Linked DNA regions of Homo sapiens. The protein of the gene in region 1 purifies or fractionates together with the protein of each later gene. This does not show direct contact. Each region holds a gene or a part of one and is shown in the gene's direction. Other genes may lie near its edges.

Region 1 (4,076 bases):
AGAAGAGGAAATATTTCTCCTTCTTCCCGTCCTCCGTCTTGTGCTCGGCCCGCTTCCTACTCTCTGCATCGTTCAGAAGGATTTCCACCTCCACGCTCTGCCCGAAGCCGAAGAAGCTCATCGCACCGCCGGGCCGGGCGGGTCTCGGTAAGGACCGCTCCCTCGCACCGGGGCGCGGGCTGCCCTAGGTAAAGAAGGCCAGAGGGCCCGATGCGCGAGCGCGCTCGGCCGCCGCGGGGCTGCCTGGCTCCGCCGCTGCCGCCGGGCAGTGGGCGCCGACGGACAGCCGGCTCCACGGGGGAGGGGCACGGCCGGGGGAGGCTGGCGGCTGCGGGCTGCGGCGCCCGAGCAGCAATGCACCGAGGAGCAGTGCCCTCGGCCGAGCCAGTCCCAGCCAGTCCCGCGGCCGGTGGCAGTGGGCGGGCGAGGGTCGGCCGTGCAATGCTGCGGGGGGCAGCCGCACAGAGCCGGGTGTGGGTGGCCTGCGCCTGCCGGGTGGGGTCCAGCGCCGAGCAGCGCTGCGAGCTGCCCAGCCTCCGGCGGTGCAACGCACCGAGGCGCTTCGGCGGCTCCGGGCGGGGGAGGGGGCGGGCGAGCTCCAGCCCGGATGCGCTGGAGCAGCGGCGCGCAGGCGCACCCCCTAACGCTCCTGGGACTCCCGGCAGCCCGGAGGAGAGCTCGCTGCGCATGCGCAGGGAGAGCGCGGCCGGCGCTCCAGCGGTCGGCATGGCAGCTGCTACCTCGCTGGGACAGGCTCTGGGCCCACGCGTGCCGCGCAGTCCCTACAGAACTGCAGTTGTCTTGTCTTCTCGGAGTGCTTTCGGCTACTTTTCCCTTATTACTTTAGCTCGATACACGTTGGGCTGCCTTTCACATTCGGATATTACGCTGTTCGAGTGCTGACGGGAAAGGCAGCCCTTTGACACGCACGCGAAATGTCGCCTGACGAGGGCAAAGGTGACAGTTACTACCGGAAGTACCCTATCTCAGATACCCTTTAGATTTTCCCCCATTGAAGAAAAACGAGGCGGGAAAAACGCTGTTAGGGTTTAACTCAGGCCCTGGCTCCTTCTCGAACGAATTAGCGGAACACCCGCAGGAGCCTTGTTTGGCTTCCACTTTTCGGCCCGCCCAGTTCTCTGAGCGTGCGGCGGACGACGCCGGTGATTGGTTGAGCGAATGGAAACGGCTCGGCGCGGTGGTTGGCCAGTGGGAAATTCTGTACGTTGTGATTGGTCCACAGGAACGACTCGGCGCGCGCGCGGGAGCGAGCTTTGAAAGTTGAGCACGGCGGCGGCGAGCCGGTGCCCTGGGATCATGGTGGCGTTGCGGGGCCTTGGTAGCGGCCTGCAGCCCTGGTGTCCGCTGGATCTTAGACTCGGTGAGCAGATGCAGCCGGGAGGCCCGGGGGCCAGGGCGAGGGTCCTATGCGTCCCCGACGATGCCTAAGCCCGGGCCGGGGTGCCGGTGGGGGCGGGGTGGGGGCGCCCGGCTGTCGGCGGTGCCTGGGGTCCCCAGGGCCGTGCCACGCCAGGATTGCGGCTAGCCAGGTTTCCCGTGGGGGCTCAAGCCGGCCAGGCCACCCTTAGAATAAGCGAATGTTGGCCAGTCTCTTCTAGCGCCTGTGCATCTGTTTTCTCGGCCTTCCCCTTCTTCCTGTGCGTGTCTTCGTGCACCTATCTATTCTTACCTATTAAGATGGTTTTAAATTGCAAATCTCTTTCTTCCGCCAGACTTATTTCTTGAACTTCATGTTCATAGGTTCCACTGGATGTCTCACATGCAGACATCATCAAACGTCACATGAGTGAAAATGGGATTCCCAAAGCCTGCTAATGGCACCATCCAAGCCACCAACCCAGGAGTCATGGCATTTCTGCTTCCCCTTTCATGCCCACTACCACTGTCCTGCCTCTGAGGTGTCTCAGGGCAGCCCCGCTCCATTCCTGATGCTGCTGCCTTCATCATAGCCTCGAGCAATTGCAGGAGTATTTTAGCTGCTTTCTGATGTTAACTGTGCCAGCCCATCCCCCACACTTTTGCAGAACGACTTTTGAAAACACAGCTTTGAATGTGTCAAGCCTGTACACCTTTAATGTTTCCCCTTTGTTTCCTAAATAAATGACCACATCCTTGGCATGCTTTATAAGAGCTGCCATTCTCTCCAGTTTGATTTTCCAAGAGCATAACCTTTGGAGTCGGACACACTTGGATTGTTCCCTTGGCTCTACCCCATAGCATCCATGTATTACCGTGCAGGTTGTTTATCCTTGCTAAACCCCTGTTTTCTGATCTGTCAAATGGGGAGTACAATATCTACCTCACAGGGGTTTTTGTAAAGATAAATTTGTACTTGCCACATAATAACTGCTGAACAGATACTAATACCCACAAGCAAACACTGTAACAATTTTGTTCATTTAGAAACACTTTAATTTCTTTCCCTTTGTGTGCTTTGTTACACTGTGCTTGCTGGGAGGCACTTTTCTGCATTTATTTGCCTGGCAAAACTCTTACATTCAGGTCCAATTGAAGAATCATCTTATTCCTCTCCCTCCTCCCCCAGTACTATTCCCTATTAAGCTCTGTAGCATTTTACATTTTACATATCTATTATTTTAACACTCATCCATAGCAAAAATAATAAATACCATCTATTGACTGTTTTTTATGTGGCTAGCACATTGTTAGGGCCTTTATACACATTATGTTTCACAAAAATCCTGTATTTCCAATGATGAAGGAGAGACTAATTATGTGTAAGTGATCAAGTCAGGATATTTGCCTCGTTCTGACTCAAAATTCAGTGGCCTCTCTTCTATCATAGGCTGCTTTTTTTGGTATCCTAAGTGTGAAATGTTGAGATCTTTGTGGACAAGAACCCTCTAGTATTCATCTTTATATCCCTAGAAGTATAAGTGGCTTCCCTAGTATTTTCTCAAAGTGTTTGTTGAGTGAATAGGTGATGTATTTCTTCCTCTTCTTCCATCCTAAGTGAAGTAGCAGAGCAGAAGTTACCTGCATTCGACAGCTGAGAAAATAGGTAGTGAGAGATTTGAATAGTGTAAAGATACTGAGGGAAAAAGACTAACTCAGTGTCTCCTATACTCTCACTCAACAATCAACACTGAAGACTTCTGTGACCAAATGGTAGATAACAGGGCCAGTTACTGCCATCCAAATTAGATTTGATGGTATTTACAGTAGGGAACTGTCATAAGCAAAACCAAAAGAAGGAGTGAGATAACTTTTGCTGTGGTCTATAATGACCTTTAAAACATTACTGGAAATTTGGAAAGAAACAATTGTATTTTTCAGATCTTCTTTCAGGCAGCATATTCCATGTCTTTGGAAGGAATGCTGTGCATAGCCACTTAGGGTACAGAGACCCCCTCCTTCAGGGTCAAGTTCAAGTGACAAAAGATGATGACCAGATTGTATTCTAAGGATGGAACTAGTTGAGTGTAAGGCCTTTCATTTTCATTTGCCGAGTGCAGTGTAATGCTCCCATCTCTGTTTTTTCCTTATTTATACCTTGCCCAACTTCTCTAAATCAGTGGTGAACAAATACTTTTAATATTAATTTGAAGGAACACCTGATTAATAATTTGAGATGTCCACATTTCCATCTAGTCCTAATTTTAGTTTGGGAAAGTGACAATGACAACACTGAAGAAATATAGTGTATTAGAAAAGAATGGGAAGGGGGGATGGAGGGATAGGGGAGGGATACCATTAGGAGAAATACCTAATGTAGATGACGGGTTGATGGGTACAGCAAACCACCATGGTACGTGTATACCTATGTAACAAACCTGCATGTTGTGCACATGTACCCAAAAACTTTAAGTTAAAAAAAAAAGTTTATCCAAAAAAAAAAGAAAAAGAAAAGAATGGGAAGATTTAGAGTTAAGAGAGATTGGTGGAATCCAGCCAGCGTGCTGTCTTAATACCCCTCCTCTCAATGTACATTCTTTCAATCAGTGTGTTTTAAAGTCACCAAGTATTCCTGGGAGTCTGAATCTGGGTTGCCTCTTCTATTTTAAACTTCCTGGAGAAATTATATATGTTTTTTA
Region 2 (3,500 bases), on another chromosome or scaffold:
CTCCACCTCCCCGGTTCACGCCATTCTCCTGCCTCAGCCTCCCGAGTAGGTGGGACTACAGGTGCCCACCACCATGCCCGGCTAATCTTTTGTATTTTTAGTAGAGACAGGGTTTCACCATTTTAGCCAGTATGGTCTCTATCTCCTGACCTCGTGATCCGCCCGCCTCGGCCTCCCAAAGTGCTGGGATTACAGGCGTGAGCCACCGCGCCCGGCCAGTTCTGTATTTTCTATACTTTCCCTTATACTCTCTGACACTGGCTTTGATTTGTAACAGCATGTCGTCTGCATCCCTCAGGCCAGCCATCCTCATTTGGAGATGGAGTTAGCCCTTCACTTGACAGATGAGTAAATTGAGGCTCAGAGAGGGGGCGTGACTTGTGTGAGGTTATACAGTGAGGTGGTGGCTGAGGCAGGTTTAAAATTGAGAACATGGCTGGGGGCAGTAGTTTGTCCTAGTGCTTTGGGAGGATGAGGCGGGAGGAACACTTGAACTCGAGACCATAGTGAGAGCAACATAGTGATAGCGAGACCCCATCTCTTAAAAAAAAAAAAAAAAAAAGGCCGGGCACAGTGGCTCACACCTGTAATCCCAGCACTTTGGGAGGCCGAGGTGGGCAGATCACCTGAGGTCAGGAATTCGAGACCAGCCTGGCCAACATGGTGAAACCCTGTCCCTACTTAAAACACAAAAAATTAGTTGGGTGTGGTGGTACGCACCTGTAATCCCAGCTACTCGGGAGGCTGAGGCAGGAGAATCATTTGAACCCAGGAGGCGGATGTTGCAGTGAGCCGAGATCGTGCCACTGTACTCCAGCCTGGGGGACAAGAGCGAGACTTCATCTCAAAAAAAAAAAAAAAATCAGTTGGGCGTGGTGGTGCACATCTATAGTCCCAGCTATGTGGGAGGCTGAGACAGGAAGATTGTTTTAACCCAGGAGTTCAAAGTTACAGGGAGTTAGGATCACACAACTGCACTCCAGCCTGGGTGACAGAATGAGACACTGTCTCAAAAAAAAAAAAAGGTCCAGGCACGGTAGCTCACACCTGTAATCCCAGCACTTTGGGAGGCCGAGGTGGAGGATCACTTGAGCCCAAGAGTTTGAGACCAGCCTGGGCAACATAGGGAGGCCCTGTCTCAACAAAAAGAAGAAAATTAGCAGGGCATGGTGGTGCACGCCTGTGGTCTCAGCTACTTGGGAGGCTGAGGTGGGAGGATCTCTTGAGTCTGGGAGGTTGAGACTGCAATGAGCTATGATCACGCTGCTGCACTTTAGCCTGAGCAACAGAGCAAGATCCTGTTTCAAAAAAAAAAAAAAATATCGAGAACAGTTCACTGAAAGGTCAGGGCTCTTCAAGAGGTTGAACTGAAGCAGAGAGGAGTGAGGGGGCCATAGCCCAGGCAGGAGCAGGAGGAAGGGAAGACATGTGTGTGGCTTGCGTGGTGAGGACCAGATACAGCAGCCAGGGGTAAAAGGCCGGGAGCAGTAGCTCACTCCTATAATCCCAGCACTTTGGGAGGCCGAGGCAGGCGGATCACTTGAGGTCAGGAGCTCGAGACCAGCTTGGCCAATGTGGTGAAACCCTGTCCCTACAAACAATACAAAAAATTAGCTGGGCGTGATGGCGGGCGCCTGTAATCCCAGCTACTCCGGAGGCTGAGGCAAGAGAATCGCTTGAATCTGGGAGGTGGAGGTTGCAGCCAAGATCGCGCCACCGTACTCCAGCCTGGGCGACAGAGTGAGACTCCATTTAAAAAAAAAAAAAAAAGAATGACAGGCTGGACTGGTTGGGGTCATGCTGATGTGCCCTTGGGCAGCCTCGGGGGTGGCTGTGGTGAAGGTTGGTGGGTGCCCTCTGCTCCTGCCCTGACACTGATGGTGTGGGGTAATGGCTGCAGCTTGTGTTTCCGAGGAAGCCTCTTCCAGGGATATTTAGGAGGTAGTGTTTCTTGGGGTGGGTTTCTGTTCCTCTCAAAGGGAGAGCAGTGTCAGAGGTTGGTGTCAGGTCCAAAGCAGCAGATAATGTGGTGATGGTTGTGGTCTTTCTGCAGCCTAGTGGCTTTTTTTTTTTGAGATGGAGTCTCGCTCTGTCGCCCAGGCTGGAGTGCAGTGACACGATCTCAGTTCGCTGCAACCTCCGCCTCCTGGGTTCAGGCGATTCTCCTGCCTCAGCCTCCCGAGTAGCTGGGATTACAGGCACGCACCACCACGCCCGGCTAATTTTTGTATTTTTACTAGAGGTGGGGTGTTCATCATGTTGGCCAGGATGGTCTCGATCTCTTGACCTCGTGATCTGCCCACCTCGGCCTCCCAAAGTGCTGGGATTACGGGTGTGAGCCACTGCGCCTGGCCAGCCTAGTGGCTTTTAACTGCTCTGCCGAGACGCCTGGGGACAGTATGGGGACCTGGAGAGGCCAAGCTGGAGGGGATACTGCTGTGTCATTGCAGAGAGAGCTGTTTTACACATGGGATTTGGGTAAAGCTTGGATGAAGAAAAGGATTCTGCTGCCCTGCAGAAGTTTGGAAACCCCTGCTTAGGCGCCTGCTGTGCTGCAGTGGGAGCGCTGGATAGCAGAGCTGTCAGTGTGGCGGGCGTTCGTTTAGGCAGAAATTCATTAAGCAGTGTTTGGTTGGCACCTACTAAGTGCTGGGCCTGGCTTACAGCACTGTGAATGCACAGGGCGGGTGAGGCGAGGGCTCTGTCCTAGAGGAACTCCCAGACTCAAGCTTTTAGCTGAGTAAGCTGGACCCAGAAGGCTCCAGGAGGAAGCAGAGGAGGCGGCGAGGCCAGTGGGGTGCTGGTGTTGGGCACAGCGCCGTGAAGGACCCAACCCGGGACTCGGGCTCTCCTTGAGCTCAGCAGGAAGCCTCACGGCGGAGCAAGGAGGAAGTGGCCCTGAGCATGAGCCCTGCAGGCCCAGGCTGAGCAGCGTCTGCCTGCCCAGGAGAGCCTCACCCTGGCCTGTCTTTAGGAAAGTAGGACCCAGGCTTACTCAGTGAAACAAGTTCTTCTGGGCATCGTGGGGCAGCTCACTCACCAGGAGAAGCTCCCAGAAGAGATCTTTAGAGGATTGCCCAGAGAGGATGCTGGGGTTAGGCTTAGGGAAATACAACTGCGACAGTGGTTTTCCGCTTTGGTTACTTGGTAGAGTGCAGGTGGAGGCAGTGCCCTTCTTGAGAATCTATTAAAATTGTGGAGCCAAATGCAGTGGCTCAGGCCTGTTAGCCCAGCACCTTGGGAGGCAGAAGCGGGCAGATTGCTTGAGGCCAGGAGTTTGAGACCAGCCTGGGCAATATAGTGAGAGGCCATCTCTACAAAAAATTTTTAAAGAGTTTGCTGGGTGTGGTGGCGAACACCTGTAGTACTTGGGGATTTCAAGGTTAGAGTGAGTTATGATCGCACCACTGCCCTCCAGCCTGAGAGACAGAGTAAGGCCCTATCTCTCCAAAAAAAAAAAAAATGCTGTGGGCTTCTCCCATGAACAGACACCTAGGCTC
Region 3 (3,393 bases), on another chromosome or scaffold:
TCTGCCAGGACACAGGGCTCACGCCTGTAATCCCAGCACTTTGGGAAGCCAAGGCAGATGGATCACCTAAGGTCAGGAGTTTGAGACCAACCTGACCAACATGATGAAACTCCGTCTCTACTAAAAATACAAAATTAGCCAGCACAGTGGCACATGCCTGTAATCCCAGCTACTTGGGAGGCTGAGGCAGTAGAATCACTTGAACCTGGGAGGTGGAGGTTGCAGTGAGCTGAGGTCGCACCACTGCACTCCAGCCTGGGCAACAAGGGCAAAACTCCGTCTAAAAAAAAAAAAAAAAAAAATTCTGACTGCAAGTTTTTGAAAAATGAGATTTAATGTTTAGTTGCCGGTATAGATTTGCATTTGGAGGTGCTTTTTTCCCCTACTGCAGGACTAGGCAATTTTTATATTATTTCATTAGATTATGAGAACTTCTAGAGAAATGGAATCATATACTTAATGGTGATTATTCTTGGCCATAGAATCACACGCTGTCACATTTTGTCTGGGCCTTTGCTTCTCTTGGACTGACAGCACTCTAACTGGTTTTCTAAGAGTTACCAGCCCCCTTTTTCATTTAGTATCACTACTCATTTTTCCTTTTCAGGGAATGTATCTTAGGAAACAGCTGACAATAAATGCAGAGGTTATCCTATCTGAGTTTTTACTATTTCCCAGTTCTTAAGTATAGATGTCTTTCTCTCTCTACAGGTTTGCATCACTGGTTGCTGTTTATGTTGTTGGGGGGTTCCTATACCAGCGACTGGTAGTGGGAGCCAAAGGAATGGAGCAGTTTCCCCACTTAGCCTTCTGGCAGGATCTTGGCAACCTGGTAGCAGTAAGTAACAGGGCAGCTGGTTGAATTTGTAGCCTGCAAACAAGGTTGGGTGACCAACCATCCTCGTTTGTTCACACTGAGGGGGTTCCTGGGACACAGGACATTGAGTGCTAAAACCACAAAAGTCCCAGCAAACAAGACAGTTGCCCTAGTACAGAGTAGTAAGTGGCACAGCATCCATTTCTGGCCTTGGTAAGACATTGCTGAAAGAGCAACACTGTTGACCAGATGGGCTCTTCTAAATCTGATTTAGCTTTTAAGAGGGCCTGGGTGGGAAGAAGGTGAGGCCTAATAAGAAGAAACTTTTTCTCCTGTTGCCCCAAATTGAATTTAGGCTGATTGTCAGATCTTTTAGGTTTTCTCATTATCCCTATAGAAAACCAATTCTTGCCACATTCCTAGACCATAAGTACACTTTCTCATATCCTAAAGTTAGATGCTGCGAATTATTTCCTTCTTTTTTTTCCCCCTACAGGATGGCTGTGACTTTGTCTGCCGTTCTAAACCTCGAAATGTGCCTGCAGCATATCGTGGTGTGGGGGATGACCAGCTGGGGGAGGAGTCAGAAGAAAGGGATGACCATTTATTACCAATGTAGATTGCACTTTATATGTCCAGCCTCTTCCTCAGTCCCCCAAACCAAAGCTACACAGCCAGATTTCTCAAGCAGTCTCAACTCCAGTCCCTCATCTCACCCTTACTATTGCTCTTGCTTTCCAGTTTGCTTTTGATTTGCATCTTCTCACTAGTAAAACTGCCTTCCCTTTGTTCCTTATTTTCTGTTTTTTCTCTAGAGAGGTACAGTTGTAAGTCAGAGTTAATATAATAGGGCCTGTGAAAACAGAGGCTTTTGCATTGTCTCTTGACATCAGAAGTTACAATAGGCATATGGGCAAAATGGTGTAGCAGGCTCACTGGCCGTTTGTTTTTTAAACACATTTTCACAAGTTTTTGAGACACTGGATTTCTTTAATTAAAAAAAAAATGCCAAGAAACATTATTTATACAGGGTTGATTGCTTTCATGTTGTTATTCTGTACCCTATAGTAGCCTCCATGAGAATCTGGTATTTCTTGCTGCTTGGAACTACTTTGCAGTGATTACTTGGTTGCAGTCCAAGTACTCTCGTTTAGTCTGAGCCTGGAGATGTTCTAGACTTGCTTCTCCCACCTCTGAGATTAGGACAGGAAAAATGTGAAATTTCCCAATTACAGGATTATACGGTACCATCACATCATTTGTGGAAATTGGGGTGACTGTATAGCTGGGATTGGGCTAAGGACTGTGGTCTTATCTGTCCACATACAGCCAAAATGCCTATCCAGAAATCCAGTTCGTTGGAAAGGAAAATTGGTACTCCTGTGCCACAGGGGTTCCAGAAAAGGGAAGTCACTTTACCTTGCGGTGGTGGGATCCTGATGTCTTTCATCCATTTGTAGTAAAAGCTGGTAAAGCTTTTCTTACTCCTGGTTCCCTACCAGTATTTCTAAACATGTCGCACTTTCTCCACAGGCATGTGGTTTTGACCTTTTTTTCAATCTTCTAGAAAGGGAACGGAAGCAGAAGTGGGACATCGAGGGCTCTGCTGTCCTCTGCGCTGGGTGTGGAATGCTGCTGCACCTGTCCCTTCTGCTGGCTCAGGGAAGTGTCTTCTTGCCCACATTTCTGTGGGGAAAGGTTTTTAATCCTCTGATGCTTCCATCTTCCTGTTTAGGCCATGTGCCCAGAAACCTGGACTGATCTTTCTTTAATAGTGAACCCCTGGGCCACTGAAGAGTAACATGGCTCCACTGGACACAAAAGAGGGATGGAATCAACAGGCAGGGGGCCTTTTATAAGCCTTAGGAAAAGAAAATGAAACTATTTCATCTTTGGACTTTTCAATACTATTGGAGTGATTTTTTTCTTTCTAAACAGGGAAAATAATGTTACAAAAGCATCTTTTTTGTTATTTGTTTGCATCCCTCCCCCACACCCTGGTGTTTTAAAATGAAGAAAAAAAACCATCACCTTTTGTACAAAAACTCTTAATGATTAAAAAACAAACAAAACATATTGGCCTTGTCATTTGTGTGAAAGTGGGCAAAGACTGGAATAGAGTAAGACAACTGAAACCAATTTTCATCCTTTTACTGAGGAAAAAAATATTTAATATTTTTGTTATATAAGGAATAGTGCCTAAGGCAGGTACTTATACTCCTGACCTCAGCCCCACACACTCTGGTTTTATAAAGCTATAGGACAGAGCAGAGATGGAACTGAAAAACAGGGTAGAAAATAACATAAATTGGAGGGGAACAGTGGGATGCAGAAAGAATGACAACAGCCACATGTGCCCCAGTCAAATACTTTTAGTCCCTGCAGCAGAAGATGCCAACCAAGTCTCTATACTGGCTGGGGATCCTGCCATGGATGCAGGAGAAAAAATTCAATCACAAGGGAGTAAGTGACAACAAAAAGAAAAAACTCTGAGCCACAGCTACACTGGGAGGGGGGAGGACCAGATTTTGCTACTTCTGTCACACAAGCTAGAAAAACCCTACCTCTCCCATTGG
Region 4 (3,955 bases), on another chromosome or scaffold:
GTGGCGCATGCCTGTAGTCCCAGCTACTCGGGAGCAGAGGTTGCGGTGAGCCAAGATCGCGCCATTGCACTCCAGCCTGGGCAACAGGAGCAAAACTCCTCCCCCTCAAAAAAAAAAAAAAAAAAAGAAATCTGGTGGCTCACGCCTGTAATCCTAGCACTTTGAGAGACCGAGGCAGGCGGATCACCTGACATCAGGAGTTTGAGACCAGCCTGGCCAACATGGTGAAACCCCTTATCTACTAAAAATACAAAAATTAGCCGGGCGTGGTGGCGGGTGTAATCCCAGCTACTTGGGAGGCTGAGGCAGGAGAATCGCTTGAACCTGGGAGGCGGAGGTTGCAGTGAGTGGAGATGGCACCACTGCACTCCAGCCTGGGCCACAGAGCGAGACTCCATCTCAAAAAAAAAAAAAAAAAAAAAAGTGAAGTCTTTACATAAATGGATTACGTGTGCTGCCCTTTGAGAAGTTTGTTGATGAAAGGAGAAAGGAAATAGTAGCACCAGAGGAAAAGATCAGGGATTTACCCTGTTCTTACAGGATAACAGCTCCTTGCTCTTTTCAGCTAGCTTTTCAAAGGACAGGGATAGGACAGCCCCCTGCCTTATTTCGGATACTTGGATCTATAACCTCCAGAAATTCAAGCTGAAGTAGCTGGAGGTCGGAGAGGAATGAGAACTGCCTGGGTGGGGTCTGCCAGCCAGACACTGCCAGGATAGCCACAAGGAGACGACTTGGAAGAACAGACAGCAACCACGTTGGACTCAGGCAGTCCTGGGTTTGAATCCTGTCTCTGTCACCACCTAGCCTGATGACCTTGGGCACATCCTGAGCACCCTGTGCCTTATCTGTAAAATGGAAACAATCATGCCGACCTTTCAGGGTGGTTTTGAGGATTAGAGACTAGCTCCTGACACACAGTAGGTAATCGTAAATGGGTGCTATTGTTTGGCCCGACCCACGTTATAGGACAGAACGTCTAACGGATGCGTCAGAACCTGCGCCCTCCGGATCTTGGAGGGTACAGAGGGCGCCCCTCGGCCTCCTCCCTTTCGGAGGTGGGGACAAGGTGGAGGAAGGGCTGCAGGAGGAGGAGCTCTAGCATCGCGACCCGCCCCGTCCCGTCCAGTCTGGCCTGGGCGCCGCGGGAACGCTGTCCTGGCTGCCGCCACCCGAACAGCCTGTCCTGGTGCCCCGGCTCCCTGCCCCGCGCCCAGTCATGACCCTGCGCCCCTCACTCCTCCCGCTCCATCTGCTGCTGCTGCTGCTGCTCAGTGCGGCGGTGTGCCGGGCTGAGGCTGGGCTCGAAACCGAAAGTCCCGTCCGGACCCTCCAAGTGGAGACCCTGGTGAGGAGATAGTCCCGACCCTCAGCCCCCGTGGGCCGAGCCTTGTTGGGTGGTAATACTGGGGTCTCAGCGAACCTGGGAGCCGGGAGGAGAGGAAGTGCGGGAACTGAGTTGGGGGTGGTGCCGGGTCTAGGGGCGAGAACGGGATCTTTGGAAGAGCATCCGTGACCCCTGTAGTCCGATCGTAGGTGGAGCCCCCAGAACCATGTGCCGAGCCCGCTGCTTTTGGAGACACGCTTCACATACACTACACGGTGAGGGGTCTGGGGGGCCGGGGCGGGGCCTGGGAGGGGGCGGCGCCCTGCTGAAACACGTCAGCTTTGGCTTGGACACGTGGCAAGCGGTTCGGGAGAAGAAACTCGGGGCTCTGGGGTCGTCGAGCACGTGGCGAGGGGAGAGACGTTGCTCTTCCGTGCCTCTTTTCCCTCCTTGCTTTTCTGCCAGTTCCTACCTGGCACGGAGAAGTGCAGGGTGGAGAGATCTCCGAGAAGCGCCAGCCTTCTGGGGCTTCCTGTTCCTTACAGCGGTAAGGGGAACGCTAGGCTGCCGCACTAAGGGGGCTGCCGCCGCCCAGCGGTCCAGGTGTGTGTTGCGCGCCTGCTGGGAGGGAGAGGGTGCTAGATGTATGCTCTTGATGCTCTCTCCCCCCAGGGAAGCTTGGTAGATGGACGTATTATTGACACCTCCCTGACCAGAGACCCTCTGGTTATAGAACTTGGCCAAAAGCAGGTGATTCCAGGTATGTGACCTGTGCCTCCCATTCCACCTCTTCCCAACCTAAGCCCTTTCTTAGCCTCTTCGGCTCCAAAGCTGCCCTGGAAATCCCCCCTGAAATGAGTAAGACCCTAGGGCTCTACGAGTTACCTCCTGAGGTTCAAACCTCACTTCTAGTACTCCACTTGTCCCATATCCTATTGGAAGCCAGAGATTTAAGAAGTGAGGGAAAGGTCAATTGAGGATGGAGGAGGAAGACTTTGATCTTCATGTCATGGGATTTGGGGAAGGTGGATAGCTTCCAGTTCAGTTGTGTCTTCTTCTTCAAGGTCTGGAGCAGAGTCTTCTCGACATGTGTGTGGGGTGAGTATCTCGGCAGGGGTGGGCCTGGGTACCCCCTTTGCATGGGTAGAGGCTTTCTCGGCCATCCTCACTCCTTAAGCAGGAGAATGTGGAATAAAGGACCCTGCTTCCCACTGGACAGGTCCAGGTCAGTGGGACCTCTGAGGGCATTCAAAGCCTCTGTGCCTCTTGCGCTGTTGCTTTTGTCGGGGGAGTTGAGGCACATGGGGAGATGGACACCTTTGCTGGCCAGCCTGTTTGGTGTTCAGGTGGAAAAATTCGTGTTTTGGGTGTGAAGATTCAGGGGGTTTTGCTGAAGGAGCTTCAGCTGGACTGAGGCTGCTGGCCTACCTCTCCTGCCTCTGGCTGTGACTGACATTCCTTCCCTCAGAGAGAAGCGAAGGGCAATCATTCCTTCTCACTTGGCCTATGGAAAACGGGGATTTCCACCATCTGTCCCAGGTAATCTGACTAGGACTCTCTCTCAGGCCATCAAAATACCCAGTCCCTAAGAGCTATAAGGAGCTATATACTTTGTTTGATGCTTGAGAAGATCCAGACCAAGTTTGTTTAGACAGATAGGAGTGGCTGGGGCCTCCATCTACAGGGCCACCTTTTTCCTCCTCATATCACCAACAGGGACTAAAGACAACCTGATGAGGCCACCTGGCATGACCTCCAGCAGCCAGTAACTTGTTAGGGAAGAGACCTGCTTGGGCCACATGGGTCTGCTGCCTGTGCCACCACCTTTCCCAGAACACTGGACTTCTTTCCTGCCCTTTTCTACAACTCTACGCTGTGTCAGCTGTACAGCCACCCCCCACCCCTTCCTTTCAGCCTCCATCAGGGAAGAGACAGTAAAAATAATCACAGTCAAGTGATTCAAAACAAAACAAAAAGCAACTGTTAAAGCCAAGTCTGCCCCATAACTTTAAAAGCCATCATTGGTCACTGCCGATGTCTATTTTTGAAGGGTTGAGATGGACAGATTTCCCAAGATGCATATCTTTTGCTTTCAGTTCTAACAAATGTTCTATTAGCTAAAATGTGTTGTACTCCACAGAGTATTGGGCTCGTAATTCTTTTTTTTTTTTTGAGATGGAGTTTCACTCTTGTTGCCCAGGCTGGAGTGCAATAGTGCAATCTTCACTCACCACAACCTCCGCCACCCGGGTTCAAGCAATTCTCCTGTCTCAGCCTCCCGAGTAGCTGGGATTACAGGCATGCGCCACCACGACCGGCTAATTTTATACTTTTAGTAGAGATGGGGCTTCTCCATGTTGGCCAGGCTGGTCTCAAACTCCCAACCTCAGGTGATCCGCCTGCCTTGGCTTCCCAAAGTGCGGGGATTACAGGCATGAGCCACCGCGCCTGGCTGGGCTCGTTAATTCTTATCCTAGTTCCAGCTTAGAGGAAGGCCTGGAAGGAGGGTAGGGGGACCAAGGAGAAACTTTTACCCAAAGCCCTATTACCTCCCCATTCCCAGTGCTGCTTATTTGTACCTCTTCTGCCCACTCATTTCTGTTCCACCTGCCCCTTTACTTCTTAAGC
Region 5 (4,300 bases), on another chromosome or scaffold:
ACTTTGAGAAGCTTTCTCTGAGGTCATGCTGGAGGCACGTGGAGGATGGGAGGTGAAAACCCTGGAGTGGAGAGAAGTTTGGAGAACTTTCTCTGAGACTGGAAGAGCTCTTACATACAGAGACCTCCACTGACGGGTGCCTGGGAGATTCACACTGGGAAGCTCAACTTAGAGTGTCTGAGCCCTTAAAGCTGAGCCTCATGAGTTTCAGGGAAGCCCCAGACTTCAGGGAATACATGGCTTAGACGACGAGGAGTCTATTAGACTTGAGCCAGAGTGAGATGAATGAAGGTCATAACACCCTTTCATGATTAATTGGCTGTCTGAAATTCCCGACCTTGCAACTTTTGAATGGACTTCGAGGAGTAGCATCTCATGTCTGAGAGGGATTTCCTCCTGAATCCAGTAGATGGGAACTCGGGGAACTTAAAATTCAGTTTAGGGAGAAATAAGAGGATGTCCCCCTGGTGTTACAAACGACATCTCTATTAAAAAGTGTAGCCTACTGGGCTAGGAATGATTGTCTTTCGTCCCTTTCTGACTTTGAATTATTTCCGACAGGAACTAGATTTTCTGCATTTCCTTTCTTCCATGCCCTCACACAAAGCTTGGCCGACTTCGGGCCCTGATAAATAGTCGTTGCATGATGTAGAATCTGTAAGCCTCGTTTTAGAAGGTTTTGTGTGGTAGATATTCCTTTGACCACCTGAAAAATTTCATTTTGGTACCAGTAAGTAGTAAACCAATAATTCACATCTAAGAACAAAGTCGTTTTTAGAAGGTTCATATGAGTCCCCCAAACTGACAGTTAATAGAGCGCTGAGTGTAATCACTCATATTTTGGGTGCGTAAAAATGGTTAGATTAGAATTTCTTAAATTTGGTTTTAATTTCTGACATGCCAAAAACTGTTTATCATGCCATCTGGGATAAATTCCTTCTGTCGTGTATTTTGTCATGTTAGTCAAATCCGGAGAGAATACAGTACATGTATTTTGCTTTAATCTGAAAACATTGGCAGAATTTGTTCAGACGTCGAAGGGGAGATCCGCTGATCCAATGACAAGGGTGTTCCTGGCATCCAGCAGAGCCCGTGTCGAGGCAGGGATCCCTGCGGGCGGATTGGGGTTCTGCATTGAGATGCACCGCGCAGCGCCGGCGATGGGGCCGCCCTGGGACGATCTGGGCTGCCAGGGCCTCTCTGCGGGCCGGGCGGGGCGGCAGCGCCGCGGGGCAGCCGAGGGGCGTGGGAGAACTGGCAGAGGGTGCGCCAGAGACCGCTTTCCCGAGCGCGAACGCCCGGGTGGCTGCTGGGGAGCAGAGGGGCAGGCTCGGGCAGCTCCTCAGCCGCGCCGGCGATGATAAAACTTGAGAAATAACAAGGAGTGGCCTCTCCGCGTCCTCTGGGTCCAATCCGGTTTCAGAAGTGAAGTTGCTCCCGGGCAGGCAAGCCTGAGAGAGGCCAAATACACTTAAAAACAAGCAGCGGCGAGAAAAGCACCTCCCGCGCCCTGCACCTCGGCAGGTCTCGCTCTCGGCACCCTCCCGGCGCCCGCGTTCTCCTGGCCCTGCCCGGCATCCCGATGGCCGCCGCTGGGCCCCGGCGCTCCGTGCGCGGAGCCGTCTGCCTGCATCTGCTGCTGACCCTCGTGGTAAGCCAGATCTCGCCGGATAGGGCTGGGGTGGGGACGGGGGTGGATCCGCCCTGGACGCTGCACGGAGCTGGGGACAAAGCGGGCCGAAACGTGACAACCGCGGCTCAGATCAATGCTGCGGGTCTGGTAGCAGCCCCAAGTTCGGGCCTGCAGGAGTGAGGAGAGAAAACGTGTGTTTGCGGGTCGACTCTGGACTGAGCTTTTTGTTTTGAGACAAGGTGTTCGATTGTTGGAATTCTGAGTCGCGCTCAGGCTTCGCTGCGCTCTGGCGGGCGCCGTCGCGGGTTGGGCAGGGGGTTGGGATTCACGCTTCTCCCCAGGTGGTGGAGCTGGTGGTGATGGTGGTTGGAGGGCGCCTTTGGGTGGAGAGGATCCCTGAGAGCTCAAAGCACAGACTTGAAAAGGGATTTAGGGGCTGCCCCCTCCCCAGCTCTGGGTCGCAGTTGACCCGGATTGGTTCGTTAGTGAGTGGAGCCGGGGCTGTGTCCCTGGGTCCCTTGGTGGGGCTGCCCCTGAGAAGTGGGTTTCTCGGTATCTCCCCTAAAGGGTATTCAGAAGCTCACCCAAGCGGTCCACCCCCGCCAGCCACCCAGCTGGGGGCGGGATGTGCCGGGGGCGCGAAAGTGTGGGAAGACCGGGCCAGAATGGGGGTTGGGGTCGTGTTGTGTTTTGGGGATGCTGCCGAGGTGTGGAGGCGGGTAGAGGGTGACAGTGGTGGGGGATGATGGATGCGGTGGGGTTGCGTCGTACTTACTCCGGCTCCGGGGAGGACTGCGCGGCCGGAGCACAGCCTGGGGTTTCGAGTCTACGGAAACCTGCCGCCCAGGACGAAATCCTCTAGGAGAGGAAGTTAGAGACGATGCTCTGAGAACACGGGAGACTTGAAGTGTTCGGAACTCTGGCGGCGCGGTTACACGCGAAGCTTCAGGCTTCAACAGAGTTTCATTCCGCACGCCCAGAAAGGAGCCGCGGACCCGCGACTTACCCGCATCCATGGATGCGCATGGGGTCCGATGGGAGCGAGGTCTATACCCGCGTCGGCAGTGAGCCGAGTCTGGTCTCGCGGATTCTTACTGCTTCCTGGCCCTCCACCCTGGCAAGTGGGAGTGGGTCCAAGGGTTGTCCTCCCTTAAGGTCAGCGAGGTATGAATATGGGATTGGTAGTTATGATCTACGATATGTTTATGGAGAAGGAATTGGACAAATAAGCGCATCCATTTGCCCGGGAACTGTTCCAACAAAGTATCTGAGCTTATGAAGTGACTACAAATGGAAACGGCTTAGAGAATGTGTTCTTTTGTAATATATTTAAAAGCATTTTCAGCTTTTCAGTTTACAAGCATGCATTTGGGGTTTTGTGTTTCCTTTGCGAAGGGATTGAGGATGGGGAACGAAACTACGGGTGCTGCTCTCAGAATTTCTCGCATTCGCTCGAGGCTCCCAGAGGCCATGGAAGACCAGGAGCTTTCCCGGCAAGGCATGGGTGGGGGTGTCGAGCTGTGGCAAGGAAGAAGGTGCGCGTAAATCTAAACGGAGGAAGCTTCAGCTTTGATCTAGCACATACTCGTTTAAGATTTTTTTTTTTTAAAATAATTCCGTTGAGTTTAGGTTAAATGCTGTATCTGGAGACTTAAATACCGGAAAGTGCACAGAAAATGACTATTTCATCTGCAATTGTCAGTTTACAAACACTTGCAATTTCGGACCGGATGGGTAAATTAACACTTCTCTTGACCATCTCATGTATGTATTTCCTTCCTTTTGACTCATACGACTCTCAACTTTTCAATATAATATTAATGACACGGCATTTTAGAAACATTTTTCATTTTATAGAGACTTTAATGGATATCTTTAAACCATTACTTATCTTTAAAACATTGTTTGTTCTAAGGAGACAGCTTTTCAAAGCAAGTCTTTAACAAGAATCTGAGACTTGTTAAATTTTAGTCTTCCCAGTAAGCAGCCCAACAGGTTGAGGGAATTTTCCCATTCTGCATTTTTCCTGTATCTCCTTCCCACCGTGTGCCCCACCACACTCTGAAGTGTAAATACAGTTTCTAATAATCACACGCACAAAGAAAAAAATGACAGGGAGATACTAAAAAAAGAAGTATATCAGAGCATCTCACTCACTATTGTAAGTTTTTGATTGCCTCAGAAAGTGTTTTTTCCTCTTAATGTAACCAGAATTGTTAGGGATGGTGGAAACTAATTTACATGAGATCAGTTGTCTTCTGCCTGTTACAAATAATAAGATTCTTTTAAAAATATGTGTTAATACTGTTATCAAATCCACTTTAAGATTATGTTATCTAGTATACATTATAAATGGCACATACTTGGACACGGCTAATCCATCATTTTGTTAAAAGGGCTCCTCTTCTAAAGGAACTAAAATAGTTGAAACGTTTGCAATAACTCCCCTCAAATCTGTACTTTTCCTCTTTGGAGTATATGAACTCTGCCTGCAACCTATGTTGATAAATAGGCATCCAAATTTTTATATTTGTTAGGGTTAATGTGAATAATGTGAGTCCTTACCAGAAAAACTTGTGATGTTTTTGCTCTTGGTAATATTTGATATATTCATCATTTTAAATTAAAAGGGAGTATAGTAATTTCTAAAGGCTTTTACATTTGTGA
Region 6 (3,500 bases), on another chromosome or scaffold:
ACCTGTCCCAGATGTCGCTCAGCTCTGAATTTGGGGAGTGCTGCTTTCTCACTTGGCCCTGTCCACGTGGCTTCTCTGAAACATACCCTTCAAGGTTGGGGTGGCTGTGGAATGTTTCCCAGAAGACATGTTCCTATACAAAGACAGAACAGGTCACATTTCATAAATCTCACATATGAGAGGCCCATGTTTTTGTCCTAGGACATCGTAAGTTTTGAATCCCAAGGGTGTTTTGGAGCTGTGGGCTGTGCCCTTCCAGTCCCCCACAGCAGTGCTGTTGCCCAAGAATCTCCTAGCGAGAGACCAGGGGCTACTGCCAGGTGACAGAAAAGGGAACATCAGTTCCGCTATACCCACAGCTCACCTGGCGGCCTGGGGCCTGCACAGGGCCTGGTTGAGGCAGTGGACCCCATTTTTGGGCCGTCTGTGGAGTTGATGTTCCTGCCAGCTGGTCCCTCTCTGTCTTCCCTGGAACTTCACCTGCAGTTTGATGCCTGAGTTAAAATTGTTCTTCTAAATAATTCACTGTAGACTTTCTGTTTTTAGCTATGTGAAAACTTCTGAGAAACTTGGAGAGTGGAATGAGAAAGTGACCCAGTCAGACCTGTGAGTGCCTGTATCATCAGCACCTCCTCCTTCCTCCTCTCCGCCTCCTGACACTCAGTCGGGGAAGGGGGCTGTGCACACTTGGCACAAAGCTTGTTTTGGTATTTGCTGGCTATTTTTTCTTCCTATAACTTTTCTTCTCTCAGGTAAACTATCCTTTAAACTTTTGTGGAACAGGGAATAGTAGCTGAGAGAAACTCACTCAGCCACCTGACCACACTTAAAACTCCCCTCTGCCTGATATGCGTCCCTTATGTAAGAGGCCTGCACTGGTCCTGGCTGTATCTCTAACTAATAGAGCTCCTTGGCTTCCGGCAGTGCACAAGCTGGACAACACCACTTGGCCTGGGTTTGTTGGTGGCGAATTTTTGTTTGTTCTAACCCTAACCCTTTTCCCTGCTTAGCTCCAGCTGTTGGGTTCTCAGAATTCCTTTCCTCCTTTAGGGGTAGTTCTTGAGTGGAGGGCATGGTGTAGGATATGCTGGTGGAAATTTGAAATCCTCACGATCTGGGAGGCACTGCATTGTCAGAGCATCAGCCAGTGTGGATCAAGTGTGGATAGTTTTGTATGTGTGTGTCAGTGGTGTTGTTCAGAGTGACTCCTAATATTTGGAGATCCTTAAACTAGATAATAGCACTTCATTTACTTGTGCTCTGATCTGATTATAACGTCTTTAAACTGAGGAGGGGAATATTTTTAAATAGTCTCTGTGGGATTTTTTCATCTGTTATTTAGAAGGAAGCGCTGTAATCGTTGCCACAGAACATGGGCAGAAAGTCCTCCCATGTTGGTCTGAAAGGAAGCAGTTGCTGCCGAGCTTGTCTTGAAGGTCCTGGGGGACCAGGCTGGCACTGCGTGCACATGGAGCCTTTGCGTCTGGTGTCACGGTGGGAGGCTGGTGTCAGGAACCCCGGGCGGTTCTCGGCATGTTGCCCCGGGTATTCCAGGGACCCGGGTGGTTCGTGGGCATGGCTACAGCAGCCAGCTGTACATCTGGGTGCTCTGGGGACCCGGGCGGTTCACGGCATGTTGCCCTGGGTATTCCAGGGACCCGGGCGGTTTGTGGGCATGGCTACAGCAGCCAGCTGTACATCTGGGTGCTCTGGGGACCCGGGTGGTTCATGGCATGTTGCCCTGGGTTTTTTTTGTTTGTTTGGTTTTTTTTTTGAGACAACGTCTCGTTCTGTCTCCCAGGCTGGAGTGCAGTGGCGCCATCTGGGCTCACTGCAAGCTCCGCCTCCCGGGTTCACACCATTCTCCTGCCTCAGCCTCCCCAGTAGCTGGGACTACAGGCGCCCGCCACCACGCCCGGCTAATTTTTTCTATTTTTAGTAGAGACAGGATTTCACCATGTCAGCCAGGATGGTCTCAATCTCCTGACCTCGTGATCCGCCTGCCTCAGCCTCCCAAAGTGCTGGGACTACAGGCGCCCACCACCACGCCCGGCTAATTTTTTGTATTTTTAGTAGAGACAGGGTTTCATGGTGTTAGCCAGGATGGTTTCGATCTCCTGACCTCGTGATCCGCCCATCTCGGCCTCCCAAAGTGCTGGGATGACAGGCGTGACCCACTGCACCCGGCTTGAGCAGGGTGTTCTAGGGACCCTGGTGGGCTGTGTCTCGGGCTGTTGAACAGTGACTTTGCTGGGCAGCAGATGGTTCCTAGGTTGGGACAGTGACGGTCATCCTTGCAGTTTGGGCATCAGGCGGACGCACAGTGCAGACTCAGTCTGAAAATAGTCTTAGGAGACTTCAGTGCTGTTTTGTAAAACCAACTGACATAAAGCTGCCGGGATCCTATTTCAAATAAATAGTGTTTTAGAGAGCTTATTACAACACTCAGCGTCCCGACCCCTCTGGAGAAACCTGTGGCTCAGCATGGAAGCATATGGCCAGTGCATCACCTGGCCGAGGCCATTCCCCTGAGTTCTGTGGCGAGAGCTGTCAACTGACGGTTCCAGAGTGGAAGCGTTTCTGCCGGGAAGGCCCAGGCCGAGGGCGATGGTTTCTGCCGGGACGGCCCAGGCCGAGGGCGATGGTTTCTGGTGGGAAGGCCCAGGCCGAGGGCGATGGTTTCTGCCGGGACGGCCGAGGCCGAGGGCGGTGGTTTCTGCCGGGACGGCCCAGACGGAAGGGATGCGGCTTGGGAGGTGGGGCCTGAGGATGTGGCCATGGCGCGTGCTCTTCCTGGCTGGTGCCTCTCCTAGTCAGCTTCAGGAGATGGGCTGTAGATGTACCTCCACTGCCCAGAGCTCTGCAGGGGAAGGCAGTAAAAGCTCCCTGCATCCTGACCCACGTGTTTGTAGATCCTTTCAGCTATTGGCGCCCTGGAGGATGGACGGGAAGGAGAACGTGGCCGGTGGGTGGAGGATAGCACTGGTGCCTGGCCCCATGAGGCTGCAATGCGGCCACATTCTCAGTGGGTCATGTCTGAATGCGAGAGCAGCTGTGTTCTGCGAGTGGTGAAACAATTGCCTGTTGCATTCTATTTATAGGCAGAGGTAACTAAAAACCTCAGTGCTGAGAGGGGCATCATATAGATCCTGCAGTTATGAGCTGGTTCACTTGGAGTTGTTTTGGTTGCAGGTGACAGAAAGCACGACTCAAGGTAGCATCAACCAAACAGGGAGGTGGGAGCACTCACCAGGCAGAGAAGTCCCTGCCCCCACTGCTGCAGCCCAACAGTGTGGCCCCATATGGGTCTCCCTGGACTAATGGCTGCGGCCTTGGAGGTGGTGTGCTCTGGCCAGGCCTGGATCACTTGTCCATCCTGAGTGGGAGTGGGGGCAGCCCCCAGAGACAGACTCAGGAGAGGGGGAGTGCAAGGATGTCCCCCAGATGCCCTGTGCTGCCCAGGGGACAGCTCACTGGCAGTGGGACGAAACCGCTGTCTG
Region 7 (3,500 bases), on another chromosome or scaffold:
TTCACATATGCCATTCTTCTGTTTGCAGCATTTAAGCTCTGCCTCCTCTTAGCCTGTCTCACTTGTAGCCGCTCTTCAGGTGACCTCACCTGGCTTTTAGATATCACTATTACCTCTGCTCTCCCATAGCTCCCTGTACTTCCCTATCATTACATTTGTCTTACTTTGTTGAAATTACAAATATGTCTTACCTTAGATTGAATGTTTCATGAGGATCATGTTTACTGCTCTGTGTGTGGTACATGATACACATTCAGTAAATATTTGTTGAATTCATGCATGAATGGATGGATGTCCAAGATACTGTTATTCAAAGAATTGTCTTAATCCAACCATTTTTCATCTTCTCCAACATTATTACCTTAGCCCAAGTAACCATTACCCCACTCTTAGATTCCTGCTGTAGTCTCCCAATCAGTCTCTTGGTTTCCACTCTTGCTCTTCTATAACCTATTTTCCACATAACTAGTAGAGTGATTCTGTATAAATATCAGTTTACGCCACTCCACAGCTTCTTCATCAGGCTGTTGCTTCTCTTTGCACTCAGAACAAAATCTGCACTCCTTACCATGACCTTTTAGACCCTACATCATTTGCCATTGACTGTCCTTTTGTTTTCTTCTCCTGTCACTCTTCCCTCGCTGTGCTCTGCTGCTATGACCACCTTGTTTCTGCAATACACAAGTCTCCTTCCAGGGTCTTTACTCTGGTTCTTGCCCTACCTGGAAGACTCTTCCCTGGTTAGAAAACTGGTTTACTTCCTCACTTCATTTACGCTCAGGTATTCTCGTTGTCACCCTCTCTCCCTGCTTTATTTTTGTCGTGACATTTATCTCTCGCTGCCTTGGCATTATGTGACATTTGTGCATTTGTGTATTTCTTTTGCTTCTTATTATCATGTAATCTTCGTGAGGCAAGGACTTGGCTTTGTTCACTGCTCTAGCCATTGAATCCGTTTAGCACCTACTAAGCAACCAGTAAATGTTGGTTGAATGAATAAGTGAATGTATTCTTCCAATCACCTTGAGCTGGAATCTTCAGAATCATCTGATTCTACTCCTATTCTCTCTTGGCTATGCAGCCAGTGAAAATTCTTCATATCATTTAATTTCCAGTTCAAAACTAATGTCTTCATTGTGTCTATCCCAACATTCCAAATGAAACACAACCTCTGCCTTATTTGATCCTTCAAATGTAATTAAAACTGGATAATTTAAGTCTTTAATATATATTAAAAATAAACATTTCCATCCAAATTTTGATGATTTTAGTTTATATTTATAAACTTTGTAAGTAACAGTGTAAATGCTAGTTAACTGTCTTGCTTTTGGTCAAAGATGTTTGTAAAACTAGAAAAAAAGAATGTGAATCTTTGAGAAACATCCATTGTAAAGTTTCAGACAGAACAAAATTAAATTTCAGTGTGTTTACGTATATGTTGCATTGGACTTGGTTCACCATGAATCACTAAACCATTGAAAATTTTTAAGTAAATTATTTTCTAAAATGAACTTAACTTTTATTTATGAGAAGATACACCTTCAAAATAATTTTATATTTCAAAGTTATGTGCCTATTGTGTGGAGTAACACATAAATATTCTCCAAATCACTTCATGGCAATAAGTTAATGTTTGTCTTTAAAAGCATTTACTTTTTGTTTAGGATATTATTGATTTGATATCATATCTCATAAGCAATTAAAAATGTACTGAAACAGTTTGCTGCCTCAGTAAATTTGGTTTTCTCTTTCCTATGTATATACCTGTGCTGCCTTCCTGATAGTTTTCAGCACTCTCCCACCTAGGCTGTTGTTGGATCGTCACTGTACCCACTGAGTTAATCAGTGAAGTTATTACATACGTTTTACAATATAGTAAACAAAGCTGAAGAGCATACATAACTCTTTGAGTTTACAAGCTTTTTGCAGGAGGAAGCTAGAACTCAGTATATTGTTTTATTCTTCTCCTTGATATATTTTTGTCCTGATTTCTTTCTCCAATATGTTTTTATTTTATCTCCAATATTTTATTTATGTTTTATTTATAATAACATAAATCACATATAATTATAAATATAAATTCATGTATTTATATTTAATTAAATATTTTAAAATTAATATTTAGTGTAGTCAATATGTAATATAATTAACATTTATATAAGTATTATATGCCTTTTTATGTGTATATCATTATAAATTTATAATTTATATAAATAATATACACATTAAAGTTTTCTTTTTATGCATAATATTTATTTGATTTTTTTTCATTTTTTAGATCTTAATATTTGCCAGTGATGCCTGCAAAAATGTGACATTACATGTTCCCTCCAAACTAGATGCCGAGAAACTTGTTGGTAGAGGTAAGGAAGCCCTAAAATTTGTAATAAATCCTGTTTTGCTGTGGTACATATACGCCATGGAATACTACACAGCCATAAAAAGGAACGAGATCTTGTCCCTTGGAAGGGATGTGGATGGAGCTGGAAGCAATTATTCTCAGCAAACTAACACAGGAATAGAAAATCAAACACTGCATGTTCTCACTTATAAGTGGGAGCTGAGCAATGTGAACATGTAGGCACAGAGTGGGGAACAACACAAGTGGGGCTTGTTGGGGGTTCTGGGAGGGCGAGAGCATCAGGAAAAATAGCTAATGCATGCTGAGTTTAATACCTAGGTGATGGGTTGATAGGTGCAGCAAACCAACATGGCATGTGTTTACCTATGTAACAAACCTGCACATCCTGCACATGTACCCTGAAACTTAAAATAAAAACACACATACAAAATAAATCCTGATTTGCTGTGGTATTTTAAAATTAGTGTAATTTTTAGAATGATAACTCTGTTGGGACCAGTAGATAAAACTAATGTAGTATATTATCATTTGTAATATTTGTGGTGTCATTCTAATGAAAGGAATATTGTTATTTTTGGAAAACATGATTATATGAAGTTGATAAAAATATTTCACTTGAGTAATAATTATTAACATTTACTTTAGAGAAAAGATAAAGACATTTAACATGCCTCTAAAAAATTGAGAAATAGTACTGAAACTGTTTTTTTTAGTTTAAAGATACTGTTTTTGGATTTTTATTCTTAAATATTTCACTCTGTATTGTATTTTTTTATCAATTAAATTATTTCACATAATTCTGTAAGAAAAGATCAATCCAATGATAGCATAAAATGTGATCACTGTTTAGCAATAGATGTAAAGAATTTAGTAATATTTTCATTTAGCAAATGCCAATTTTCATCTGCTAGATTCTGTATAACTTCAGGTGTATTTAGGTGTTACTCTATAGCTTATTTCTGTTGATAAAGAAAAAAATTGTTTTGGTTTTGGTTTAAAGATTCAAACACTGGAGCTCACATATGTTTACTTCAGAGCAAATGTCTCTTCTTTAAGAGAATGTTAAGTAGGTATTAGAAGTGATGTAAGTATTTAAGCACAACTTAATTCACCATATAGTTTTATGTGTCCTTTCAAA

What was found.
Region 2: the proteins of NCAPD3 (region 1) and RAB35 purify together in Homo sapiens (co-immunoprecipitation; one large-scale study listed by IntAct). This does not show direct contact.
Region 3: the proteins of NCAPD3 (region 1) and M6PR purify together in Homo sapiens (co-immunoprecipitation; one large-scale study listed by IntAct). This does not show direct contact.
Region 4: the proteins of NCAPD3 (region 1) and FKBP11 purify together in Homo sapiens (co-immunoprecipitation; one large-scale study listed by IntAct). This does not show direct contact.
Region 5: the proteins of NCAPD3 (region 1) and DSC3 purify together in Homo sapiens (co-immunoprecipitation; one large-scale study listed by IntAct). This does not show direct contact.
Region 6: the proteins of NCAPD3 (region 1) and TPD52L2 purify together in Homo sapiens (co-immunoprecipitation; one large-scale study listed by IntAct). This does not show direct contact.
Region 7: the proteins of NCAPD3 (region 1) and DSC2 purify together in Homo sapiens (co-immunoprecipitation; one large-scale study listed by IntAct). This does not show direct contact.

Annotation. Positions count from the first base shown.
Region 1 is NC_000011.10:134,221,168-134,225,243, reverse strand, and holds the start of NCAPD3 (condensin-2 complex subunit D3), read left to right. Parts: upstream 1-1,276; 5' UTR 1,277-1,317; coding exon 1,318-1,381; intron 1,382-4,076. Other genes in the region: VPS26B (vacuolar protein sorting-associated protein 26B), read right to left, coding at 1-121.
Region 2 is NC_000012.12:120,110,254-120,113,753, reverse strand, and holds part of RAB35 (ras-related protein Rab-35), read left to right. Parts: intron 1-3,500. UniProt on the Homo sapiens protein: The small GTPases Rab are key regulators of intracellular membrane trafficking, from the formation of transport vesicles to their fusion with membranes.
Region 3 is NC_000012.12:8,939,861-8,943,253, reverse strand, and holds the end of M6PR (cation-dependent mannose-6-phosphate receptor isoform 1 precursor), read left to right. Parts: intron 1-711; coding exon 712-838; intron 839-1,313; coding exon 1,314-1,436; 3' UTR 1,437-2,893; downstream 2,894-3,393. UniProt on the Homo sapiens protein: Transport of phosphorylated lysosomal enzymes from the Golgi complex and the cell surface to lysosomes.
Region 4 is NC_000012.12:48,922,693-48,926,647, reverse strand, and holds the start of FKBP11 (peptidyl-prolyl cis-trans isomerase FKBP11 isoform 1 precursor), read left to right. Parts: upstream 1-1,155; 5' UTR 1,156-1,219; coding exon 1,220-1,348; intron 1,349-1,525; coding exon of another isoform or gene 1,526-1,536; coding exon 1,537-1,602; coding exon of another isoform or gene 1,603-1,874; intron 1,875-1,999; coding exon 2,000-2,087; intron 2,088-2,391; coding exon 2,392-2,425; intron 2,426-2,795; coding exon 2,796-2,866; intron 2,867-3,043; coding exon of another isoform or gene 3,044-3,096; exon of another isoform or gene 3,097-3,522; intron 3,523-3,955. UniProt on the Homo sapiens protein: PPIases accelerate the folding of proteins during protein synthesis.
Region 5 is NC_000018.10:31,039,943-31,044,242, reverse strand, and holds the start of DSC3 (desmocollin-3 isoform Dsc3a preproprotein), read left to right. Parts: upstream 1-1,500; 5' UTR 1,501-1,582; coding exon 1,583-1,651; exon of another isoform or gene 1,652-1,801; intron 1,802-2,408; exon of another isoform or gene 2,409-2,710; intron 2,711-4,300. UniProt on the Homo sapiens protein: A component of desmosome cell-cell junctions which are required for positive regulation of cellular adhesion. Required for cell-cell adhesion in the epidermis, as a result required for the maintenance of the dermal cohesion and the dermal barrier function.
Region 6 is NC_000020.11:63,875,270-63,878,769, forward strand, and holds part of TPD52L2 (tumor protein D54), read left to right. Parts: intron 1-546; coding exon 547-606; intron 607-3,500.
Region 7 is NC_000018.10:31,092,422-31,095,921, reverse strand, and holds part of DSC2 (desmocollin-2 isoform Dsc2a preproprotein), read left to right. Parts: intron 1-2,278; coding exon 2,279-2,363; intron 2,364-3,500. UniProt on the Homo sapiens protein: A component of desmosome cell-cell junctions which are required for positive regulation of cellular adhesion.